Regions from separate parts of the Homo sapiens genome. Here region 2 is linked to region 1. Evidence: fine-mapped expression QTL. Tissue or cell type: whole blood. Region 1 holds a variant in brackets; the other region holds the start of a gene. All regions are shown on one strand. Distances are from middle to middle.

Region 1 (5,520 bases):
CTGTACTTCACTACCTCTTAGCAACCTCTTTTCCTGGTCCTTTGGCCGGAAAGACAGGGTTTTTCTAGAAGTTTTTGCTGCCTTGCCTTCACTTGCTGTTGTTTACTTTTTGTAGTCCTGAAGTAGTTGTTTTTTGGTGTGTTTTGTCCAGTTTTTGTTGTAATCAGTGGGTGATTGACGTCAAAATGCTCTTACTGTAACATGGCCAGCATCAGATGTCTCCAACATTCCTTTTAAAATGTAAAATGTTAATACCTCTGTTAAAGAAGTTTTTTTGTTTGTTTTTTTTTTTTTGAGACGGAGTCTCACTCTGTCGCCCAGGCTGGAGTGCAGTGGCACCATCTCAGCTCATTGCACCCTCCACCTCCCGGGTTCAAGCAGTTCTCTGCCTCAGCCTCCCAAGTAACTGGGATTATAGGTGCCTGCCATCATGCCCAGCTAATTTTTGTATTTTTAATAGAGATGGGTTTCACCATCTTGGCCAGGCTGGTCTTGAACTCCTGACCTCGTGATCCACCTGCCTCAACCTCCCAAAGTGCTGGGAAGAGTAACTCAAAAAAATCTGTGAAGTAACTTAACCATGATATTACCTTTCAGCTAAGCTGTCTCCAGATTTTTTACATCTTTCTTCATACTGATGAGTTTAGACATATCATTGTAATTTTGTTTTTGCTGCTTTACTCTCTCTTTTCTTACCCTCTTCCCTTACCCTTTTTTTTTTTTTTGAGACAGAGTTTTGCTCTTGTCACCCAGGCTGGAGTGCAGTGACACCATCTCGGCTCACTGCAACCACCGCCTCCTGGGTTGAAGTGATTCTCCTGCCTCAGCCTCCCTAGTAGTTGGGATTACAGGCACCTGCCACTAGGCATAGCTAATTTTTGTATTTTAGCAGAGACGGGGTTTCACCATGTTGGCCAGGCTGGTCTTGAACAACTGACCTTAGGTGATCCACCTGCCTTGGCCGCCCAAAGTGCTGGGATTACAGGCATGAGCCACCGCGCCTGACCCCCCTCTTTCTTTATTGTAGACCAAAACAACTTTTCTTCGTACTTCAAGAAAGACGTTTGTATACATGTTACTACAGCCTATGGTTTCGTTCTTCTGTGGACCTTATAATTATAATACATTGTTTTCAGAACTCAGTATATCATGTTAACTAAGTGCTCTGATGCTTTAATAAGCATTATTAAATACTAATTAATGTAAAAAGGAACCTCTTACTCTTCTGTAATTATAGCTCTAAAATCACTGGAATTAGATGATTATCAGCTTTCACGTAAAAAAAAACTGTCTATAGAAACAAGTTTTAAGAACTTCAAAGATTGTTGGGTAATGCAGCACTTTACTGTGCAGCCAAAATTTGAAAACATCTCAAAATTCTTTGGACTGTTAGAATTGGTATGTTTAGGAAGGTAGACTATTGGGTCAAAGATGAAAATATAAATGTGATGTATTGTCAAAACTGCTATTGTCAGCCATGGCTCAATGTAGATTATCCCACTCATTTTTATCAGTTCTGTAAGAATGCCATGTATCAGATTCTTTATAGAGGTATGATTAACTGTGGCTTTTTCTGTCACTTTACTCTACATTAAATAAAATATAGGGGGCCCTAGCCAGAACAGTCAGGCAGACAAAAAAGATAGAAGGCATTCACATTGGAAAGGAAGAAGTAAAGTTGTCTCTGTTTTCAGGTGAGATGATCTTATGCATAGAAATACCTAAGGATTCCACACACAAAAAAATTAGAACTAATAAACAAATGCAGTTAAGTTGCAGGATACAAAATCAGCATACAAATATCAGTTGCATTTTTATACACTAACAATGAACTATTTGAAAAAGAAACTATGAAAACAATTTCATTCATAATAGCATCAGAGGGGGAGGGAAAGCATTAGGAGATATACCTAATGTAAATGAGGAGTTAATGGGTGCAGCACACCAACATGGCACATGTATACATATGTAACAAACCTACACGTTGCGCACATGTACCCTAGAACTTAAAGTATAATTTTTAAAAAAATAATAATAGCATCAGAAAATAAAATAAAATAAAATACTTGGGCATAAATTTAACCAAGGAGGTAAAAGATCTATATGCTGAAAACTATAAAACATTGATTTAAAAAATTGGAGAAAATATAAGTAAGGTATTCTGTGTTCATGAATTGGAAGAATTAATATTGTTAAAATATCCGTAGTACCCAAAGTGATCTACAGATTTAATGCAACCCCTATCATAATTCCAGTGGCATTTGCTATGGTTTGGATATTTGTCCCCTCCACATCTAGTGTTGAAACTTGATCCCAGTGTTGGAGGCGGGGCCTGGTGGGAGGTGTTTGGGTCATGAGGGTGGATCCGTCATGCACATATTGGTGCTATCCCCTTGCTGATGAGTGAGTTCTCCCTCTATAATTTAACAAGAGAACTGGTTGTTTAAAAGAGCATGGCACCCCTCCCCTCTCTCGTCTTGTGAAATACTGACTCCTCTTCCCCTTCTGCAATGATTGGAAGCTTCCTGAGATCCTCAGATTCGTGCTTCTTGGACAGCCTGCAGAACTGTAAGCCAAATAAACCTTAATAGAACGATCCTAAAATTCATATGTAACCACAAAAGGCCCTGAAGCCGGGGTAATTTATAAAGGTCAATTAAAGAGGTTTAGTTGACTCACAGTTCAGCATGGCTGGGGAGGCCTC[A/C]GGAAACTTACAATCGTGGCGGAAAGCAAAGGGGAAGCAAGGCACCTTCTTCACAAGGCCGCGGGAAGGAGAAGTGCTAAATGAAGAGGGGAAGGGCCCCTTAAAAACCATCAGATCTTGCAAGAACTCACCATGTAGTACACCTGTAAACCCAGCTACTCGGGAGGCTGAAGCATGAGAACCACTTGAACCCTGGAGGCACAGGGTTGCAGTGAGCCGATATCATGCCACTGCACTCCAACCTGGGTACAGAGTGAGACTCTGTCTCAAAAACATAAGAATAGTGTCAGGCACGGTGGCTCAAGCCTGTAACCCCAGCACTTTGGGAGGTCAAGGTGGGCGGATCACTTGAGCTCAGGAGTTTGAGACCAGCCTGGGCAACATGGCAAAACTACATCTCCACAAAAACAATATAAAAATTAGCAGGACTTGGTAGCTCACATCTGTAGTCCAGATTCTTGGGGGACTGAGGTAGGAGGATGACTTCAGTCCAGGAAATGGAGGTTACTGTAAGCTGAGATTGCACCACTGTAGTCTAGTCTGGGTGAAAGGGCCATACCTGTCTCAAAAAGAAAGAAAGAGAGAGAGACAGAGAAAGAAACAGAAGAGTACATTGTAACTGTTGTAAGGTTGGATATTATTTTGTGAAACTGTTTTGTTTTGTTTTGTTTTTTTGAGACAGAGTCTCCCTCTGTTGCCAGGCTGGAAGGCAGTGGCGTGATCTCGGCTCACTGCAACCTCCGACTCCCTGGTTCAAGCGATTCTCCTGCCTCAGCCTCCTGAGTAGCTGGGATTACAGGCACGCGCCACCGTGCCCAGCTAGTTTTTGTATTTTTAGTAGAGACGGGGATTCACCATGTTGGCCTTGATCTCCTGGCCTCGTGATCTGCCCCCCTTGGCCTCCCAAAGTACTACGATTACAGGCATGAGCCATTGCACCTGGCCTGTTTTGTTTTGTTTTTAAGAGACAGGATCTCTAGGCTGGACACAGTGGCTCATACTTGTAATCCACCACTTTGGGAGGTCAAGGTGGGAGGATCACCTGAGCCCCAGATTTCAAGACCAGCCTAGGCAACATAGGGAGACCACATTTCTACAAAAAAATTTTCAAATTAGCTGGTTATGGTGGTACTTGCCTGTGGTTTCCCAGTTACTTGGGAGGCTGAGGTAGGAGGATTGCTTGAGCCCGGGAGGTCGAGGGTGCAGTGAGCCATAATTGCACCACTGCTGTACTCCAGCCTGGGTGAAAGATGAGACCTTGTCTCAATTTTTAAAGAAGGCTTAAACTGCTTAATCTGATTATAAATGATAAATGTCTAGTATGTTATTCTCTATTCATGAAATATAGCAAAGATAAGCTTTTTGGCCTTTTGAAGCATTTATGTTTTAAATGACAAATATGTTACTGTAAACTGGGATTATCAGCTGGCCAGGTATCATTTACTGCAGTTCAGAGTCTCCCAACCTCCATATTTCTAGAACTGAATTTAGACTGAAGGATGTGCCTCTTAAACTGCTCTGCCCTTTTGGTTTCTTGCTGGCAATTGTCTGCTGATATTTTATAAAGCTAAAAATTTTCTACTCAATTTGTTCCTTATTTTACATTTTTATCTCAGCCTAGGTATAAACTAGATGAATTTGATTGCAATTATTTTCATTGTTACTGCTCTTCATTTGCCTATTTTCATCAGAAAAAAACAGTGTATTTTCTGGTGAGATTGGCATGAATTTCTCAGATAAAGGAATATTTGGGGATGGTGTCCCTTTGGGAATATGATTGCTTTCTTGCATGGTGATTTGCTTCCACTTCCCAGGTGTTGAGAATAATAGGCAGTCAGAAGGTCTGCATGCCAAAGGCAGAAGACATTTGGGAATTTTTTCATCATGAACTTTAAGTTGAAGGAGTTAATGATTGGCTGGATTACAATATAAAAAGTGGATGTCTTTACAGTAAAGTAAGTAGAGCTTGAAATACAAAGAATGGAAACTCCTACATGAAAATGTTTTTAGGGGAAAAACATATTTTCTCTTTATGGTTTATTCTGCTCTAGGAAAACACCACCAAGCAAGTGAAACACATAATGTGATTGCATCAGACAAAGCAGCAGAAAAATCAGTTGTCCATGAACATGAGCACAGCCACGACCACACACAGCTGCATGCCTATATTGGTGTTTCCCTCGTTCTGGGCTTCGTTTTCATGTTGCTGGTGGACCAGATTGGTAACTCCCATGTGCATTCTACTGACGGTGAGTGGCTCCAAGGCTTTCTGGGCAGTGCAATACATTTGCAGTTGAGAAAGTTACAAACGATCAAATATTTCAGTCTGTATCAGTGGCCATATTTAGTGCTAAAACTCTTGTCTTCCTTGGGTTCTAGTGAACATTTAACTAAGTGGGGAGAGCTAGTGAGTTGTGGCATGTGGCGCAAAGAAGTGTTTATTGGTTTATTACTTTGCTTGTCTTAAAGTTGTCACATTTGGTTGAGAGTCTAGGGCAGAAGTTCTTAACTTAGTTTTTTGCTGTGGAGCCCTTAGGCAGTCTAAAGACTGTGGACCTTTTATTGGAATATTGTTTTTAAATGTATAAAACATAGTACATAAGATCAAAGAGAAAACCACCTTTGTTGAAATACAGTTACTAAAACATCAGAACAAATTTGTGATATAGTAATGTATGTCTTTATCAGTGCATTAAATAATGAGATAATACATTTAAATCCTAAACAAGTTAGAGTTGAATTTTATTTTCTAGGACATTAGTATGCTAGCTATTACATAATAATATGCTTGGCTTAAGAACATTAAATTATGAGGT
Region 2 (4,683 bases), 42 kb before region 1:
AATCTCAGTGTTTTCTCAACGTGGGCTCTATTACCTTTTGGGTTGACTGATTCTTTGTTACAAATGTCCCTTGGGGAGCAAAAAATCTCATCCAGCTGAGAATTCACTGGTCTGTTGAAAATATGACCCATCCAATTTTCTGCTACATGTGTAAGGTTAATTAAATGCAAGTATGATGCAACTCCACTGTAAATCCAGTCCCAAATCAAACTATTCACCTTTTTCCTTCTCTTCTGCTGTACTAGTATTTTTCAGCCAAAAACCAGAAAACAAAAATTTCCTAACAGGAACCCTAAACTGTTTTGGAATAACATAATTTTTTTTTGGAGACAGTTTTGTTCCTGTTGCCCAGGCTGGAGCGCAAAGGCGCGATCTCAGCTCACCGCAACCTCTGCTTTCCGGGTTCAAGCGAATCTTCTGCTTCAGCCTCCCAAGTAGCTGGGATTACAGGCATGCACCACCATGCTCGGCTAATTTTGTCTTTTTAGTAGAGATGGGGTTTCTCCATGTTGGTCAGACTGGTCTTGAACTCCCGACCTCAGGTGATCTGCCTGCCTCGGCCTCCCAAAGTGCTGGGATTACAGGCGTGAGCCACCGCGCCTGGACAAAATGATCAGAATTTTTAACCATCAAATTGGAACAGAAATAGCTGAAGCCCAGACTTTCTGAATAAACAATGGAAAAATAGTACATTTAACATGACATGCAAAACCAAGGGTTATCATACCCTTCTCTCCCCATCAAGAACTAAACCACTTTGACTAAAAGTTTCAGAGGGTTTGACATAAAAACGGAACTTGGTGACAAGAGACGAAGGATTAACTCTCACCTGTAATAACCTGAGCAGTCAAAGCCTTTGTTAAATCGATTTAAAAGCCACAGAAAGCATCATATTAGATTATTTGTTATACAGAAGTCTTTGTAAGCTAGCTACTCAAAAAGTTTCAACGAGTCATTTAAGAAAAAATAATTTTGTAGAAACCACGTGCATTCTTGCAACAGAGGTTGCCCTATACACTAGCTATCTCAACTGCTACTATAATAATTGTATTCCAATTCTAATGCAAATTAAAGGACTAATTTGAAAGGGTAAGAATGGAAAAAGCTATACAGCATGTTGCTTTTTATATCTAGTCTTAAAATGAACACCGGGCAAAGTTTACTATTTTCAGTACTTACTGCCCAAAGACAAGGATTAAAAATCACTAAGAACATAACATGATACATTTTAAAAACTGTGGTCAAGTGGTTATCATTTTTAAATGGCAATGCTTTCCTGCTCAAATTCTTTACAGATTATACCACCTCTCAAGCCAGTTTTGGTCACTTTCTTCGAATTGGAGCTTACTGATCATCCCGGTTGGGTTCTAATAGAGCTGGTCTCTGAGCTGAGCCTACTTTTCAGCCTCCAGCCCCAAGAGGATATAAATACAGATAAGTACAGGATCGAGGGCTGAGGGACGCGCCACACGCAATACCTAGAGGTCTCAAAAACAGGAAAAAAAAAAAAAAGGCAGAGCACAGGAAAACGAAAGCTGAAAAAACACTGCAAAGCAAATACGTCCTCTCCTGGCCCACATGCTGGGTATAGCTGGATCTGTCAGCTTCGAGAATAGTTAGACAACCCTGGCCCATTGTTCCTACAGCAGGCTAGAGCATTTGGAGGGAAAAATACCATATCCGGCAGGGCCCGGTGGCTCACGCCTGTAATCCCAGCACTTTGGGATGCCGAGGCGGGTGGATTGCTTGAGGTCAGGAGTTCGAGACCAGCCTGGCCAACATGGTGAAACGCCGTCTCTGCTAAAATAAAAAAATTAGCCGAGCGAGGTGGCGGGCGCCTGTAATCCCAGCTACTAGGGAGGCTGAGACAGGAGAATTGCTTCAACCCAGGAGGCAGAGGTTGCAGGGGTCTGAGATCCCGCCACTGCACTCCAGCCTGGGCGATAGAGTGAGACTCTCTATCTCAAAAAACAAAACACCTCCCCCACGTCTCCCTCTACCGAGTAACAATCGGGAGAGAGTTCATCCTCAGGCCCAAGGCACGCCGGACCCGAGCGAGCAGGCGGGCGCGCAACCGCAGGGCGGACCGGGGCTCCGAGGCCTAGAGTCAGGCCTGGCGTCCCTGCGGCGGGAAGAAGGGTCAATCCACCGACTAGAGTGGCGGGGAGCATCACGCGGCGCTGCATGGGGCTCGTGGGGAGGGGAAAACGTATGGGGCTGGGGTCGCTCTGGAGGCCGGGGACTCGGACTCGGGTAGCCGCGGAGGCCTTTCTCACCATCGCGCCAAACTCTCTTCGCTACAGCAGCTGCCGACACCGCCGCCGTTACACGAGCTTAACTACAACGCCGCTAACAGCCAATCCTCGCGAGAGGAGCCGCCGGAAGTCGTCGAAAGTGCAACGCAAAAGAGCCTTTTGGATCATAGAGGCACAGTCACTTCCGGCAGCTAGAGCAGCTACTGACTCTGTTTCAGCCATCTTCGATAAAGGCAAAAAGGTAAGGGAAAGTTTCCAAGCTTTAGGAAGAATTATTTTTTTTCAAGACGCTGTCTTCCGTACTTTCGTTATTAAACATACGGCTCAAGTGATCACCGGTATAGACAGTGACATCAGACATCTTTCATTAGCCCTACTCAAAAATGGCGGCAACGTAAGTATCCTGGGCCGGAGGTCGGTTGTAACCCGGAAGTGCCTTTGTAAAGGAGGGGGTGGTTAGACAATCCGGAAGTGGATGGAATGAAGAGATGCCACTTGGCGGCCATGGCAGCTGTAGTATCGGCGACTCCGGGTCAAGGCCCGGTCGAGTGCAGTACCATGGGCAGCACCGGGTATAGGGCAGAGACAGCTTTGTGTCAACTTTGCTGCTGAACCCCTAGGACCCATCGTTAGAGACCTGCAGGACTCCTTTCCTCATCCCAGGCTCGGAGGAGAGTTTGCTGGGACTGGTGGGCTGGTTTCCTGCTCTGGGGGGCGGATCACCTTCGGGGCCGCCTCTTGGAGACAGGGGCGCCTAGGGAACGAACAGGTTCGCTTGAGTCACTTACCCGCCGCCGCCTAAGACATTGTGCCACCCTCAATCCGACAATCGAAGAAATCGATCATTCGCACATTTTCCCCATTGACTTTTCCCATCTCTGTTAACCCACGAGAATCTAATGACTGGCATCTGAGAACCCAGAGCCTGGGACCTTAGATTGCTGTAAGCTTTCTCTGGTGCTAATATCAGCAAAAAGGGTCTGTTGCCGGGTACGTTCAAGAGGAAGGTGCCTCGTGAACACATCTGCTGGTGGGAAGGCCTAAAGAACTGGAAAGCCCACTCTCTTGGAACCACCACACCTGTTTAAAGAACCTAAGCACCATTTAAAGCCACTGGAAATTTGTTGTCTAGTGGTTGTGGGTGAATAAAGGAGGGCAGAATGGATGATTTCATCTCCATTAGCCTGCTGTCTCTGGCTATGTTGGTGGGATGTTACGTGGCCGGAATCATTCCCTTGGCTGTTAATTTCTCAGAGGTAAGAAATTCTCAATTTTCTGTCAGCTGTCAGGATGGCTGTGAGATAGTAGTTTTAGTTGCAAAGGGAAGCTGCTTCCCTAGTTAAATCTCAAAGCTGAAGGTCTCATTAAGAAAGACTATCTTTTTTAAAAGATACATGACACTTAATAATAGAAAGAAACCTCATATTCATTAGTGGAATTCTTAACCTGGGGTGGATAGATATTCCACGGAAGATCCTGGAGTATTCTGAATCCCCTAGAATTGCTTACAAAAATTTGAGGTTCTGTGCATTTACCTGGAGAGAGGCACCATAACATTTCTTTTGATTCTCAGAGGTTTCATGGAATCAAGATTCCAGATTGTTATCAAGAAAATAAATGGAGGGCTGGGCGCGGTGGCTCACGCCTGTAATCTCAGCACTTTGGGAGGCTGAGGTGGAAGGATCGCTTGGGCCCAGGAGTTCTAGACCAGCCTGGGCAACGTGGCGGGACTTTGTCCCTACAAATGAGGCTGAGGCAGGAGGATCGCTTGACCCCAAGTGGTTGAGGCTGCAGTGAGCCGTGTTTGGGCCACTGCACTCCAGCCTGGACAGCAGAGTGAGATCCTGTCTCCAAAAAAGAAAAAAAAAGAAATGGAGAATGTTATTTTTCTACATGAACTGAAATCAATATGATAACTTCCTTTTGAGAAAGTCAAACACACCTTTCTGAGGAAAGCTGTTTTGTTTTTTGGATGTCTGTACTAGAATGAATGTAAGAAAAAACTAAGATTGTTCTTAACTCACATTTCCTTTTAAAGAAGGGGAGCCTTGGAATTGATATTCTGAAGTTGTTTCAAATCTATTTGCTTAGCAATGAATTTTTGGTTAATACGTTTTGACATTTTCGTTAATTTGATTGGCACCTTGAACAGATGTTAAGCGAGGGTCCCGGGAAGAGGGATAGATGAAAGCACTGTTCAGTGAACATGCTGATAGGTCCTTTAGGTAGGCAAAAGGAATTCACGAAGTGCACAGCGTTCAAAGATTTAGGGGGGAAAAACTACTACATTCAAAGGGAACAAGATTTCATGAGTTTGTCCTAGAGTTCAGCAGTAAAATAGGCCCTAGTTTCAGTGCCATTCCTGAAAGTACTTTCAAAGGAGGCCTGAAGTAGAAAGGAAAGGTATAAATGAAATATTAAGTACACC

Evidence for each region. PIP is the estimated chance that this variant, and not a neighbour inherited with it, causes the effect.
Region 2: it holds the start of SLC39A9, and the variant in region 1 is fine-mapped to the expression of SLC39A9 in whole blood (TOPMed, PIP above 0.99).

The regions. Positions count from the first base shown.
Region 1 is chr14:69,437,314-69,442,833 of GRCh38, forward strand. It overlaps SLC39A9 (solute carrier family 39 member 9), which reads left to right. Exons shown (of 7, transcript NM_018375.5): 3 at 4,756-4,953. Among named protein-coding and RNA genes, the nearest start is that of SLC39A9, 41 kb to the left of the region's middle. The variant A/C (reference allele first, on the strand shown) is at 2,705.
Region 2 is chr14:69,395,955-69,400,637 of GRCh38, forward strand. It overlaps SLC39A9 (solute carrier family 39 member 9), which reads left to right and starts at 2,738. Exons shown (of 7, transcript NM_018375.5): 1 at 2,738-3,511. The coding sequence starts at 3,416. It overlaps ERH (ERH mRNA splicing and mitosis factor), which reads right to left and starts at 2,345. Exons shown (of 4, transcript NM_004450.3): 1 at 2,277-2,345. The coding sequence starts at 2,279. RefSeq lists enhancers at 1,345-1,853, 1,854-2,361, 2,563-3,762, 2,691-3,030 and a silencer at 2,354-2,594.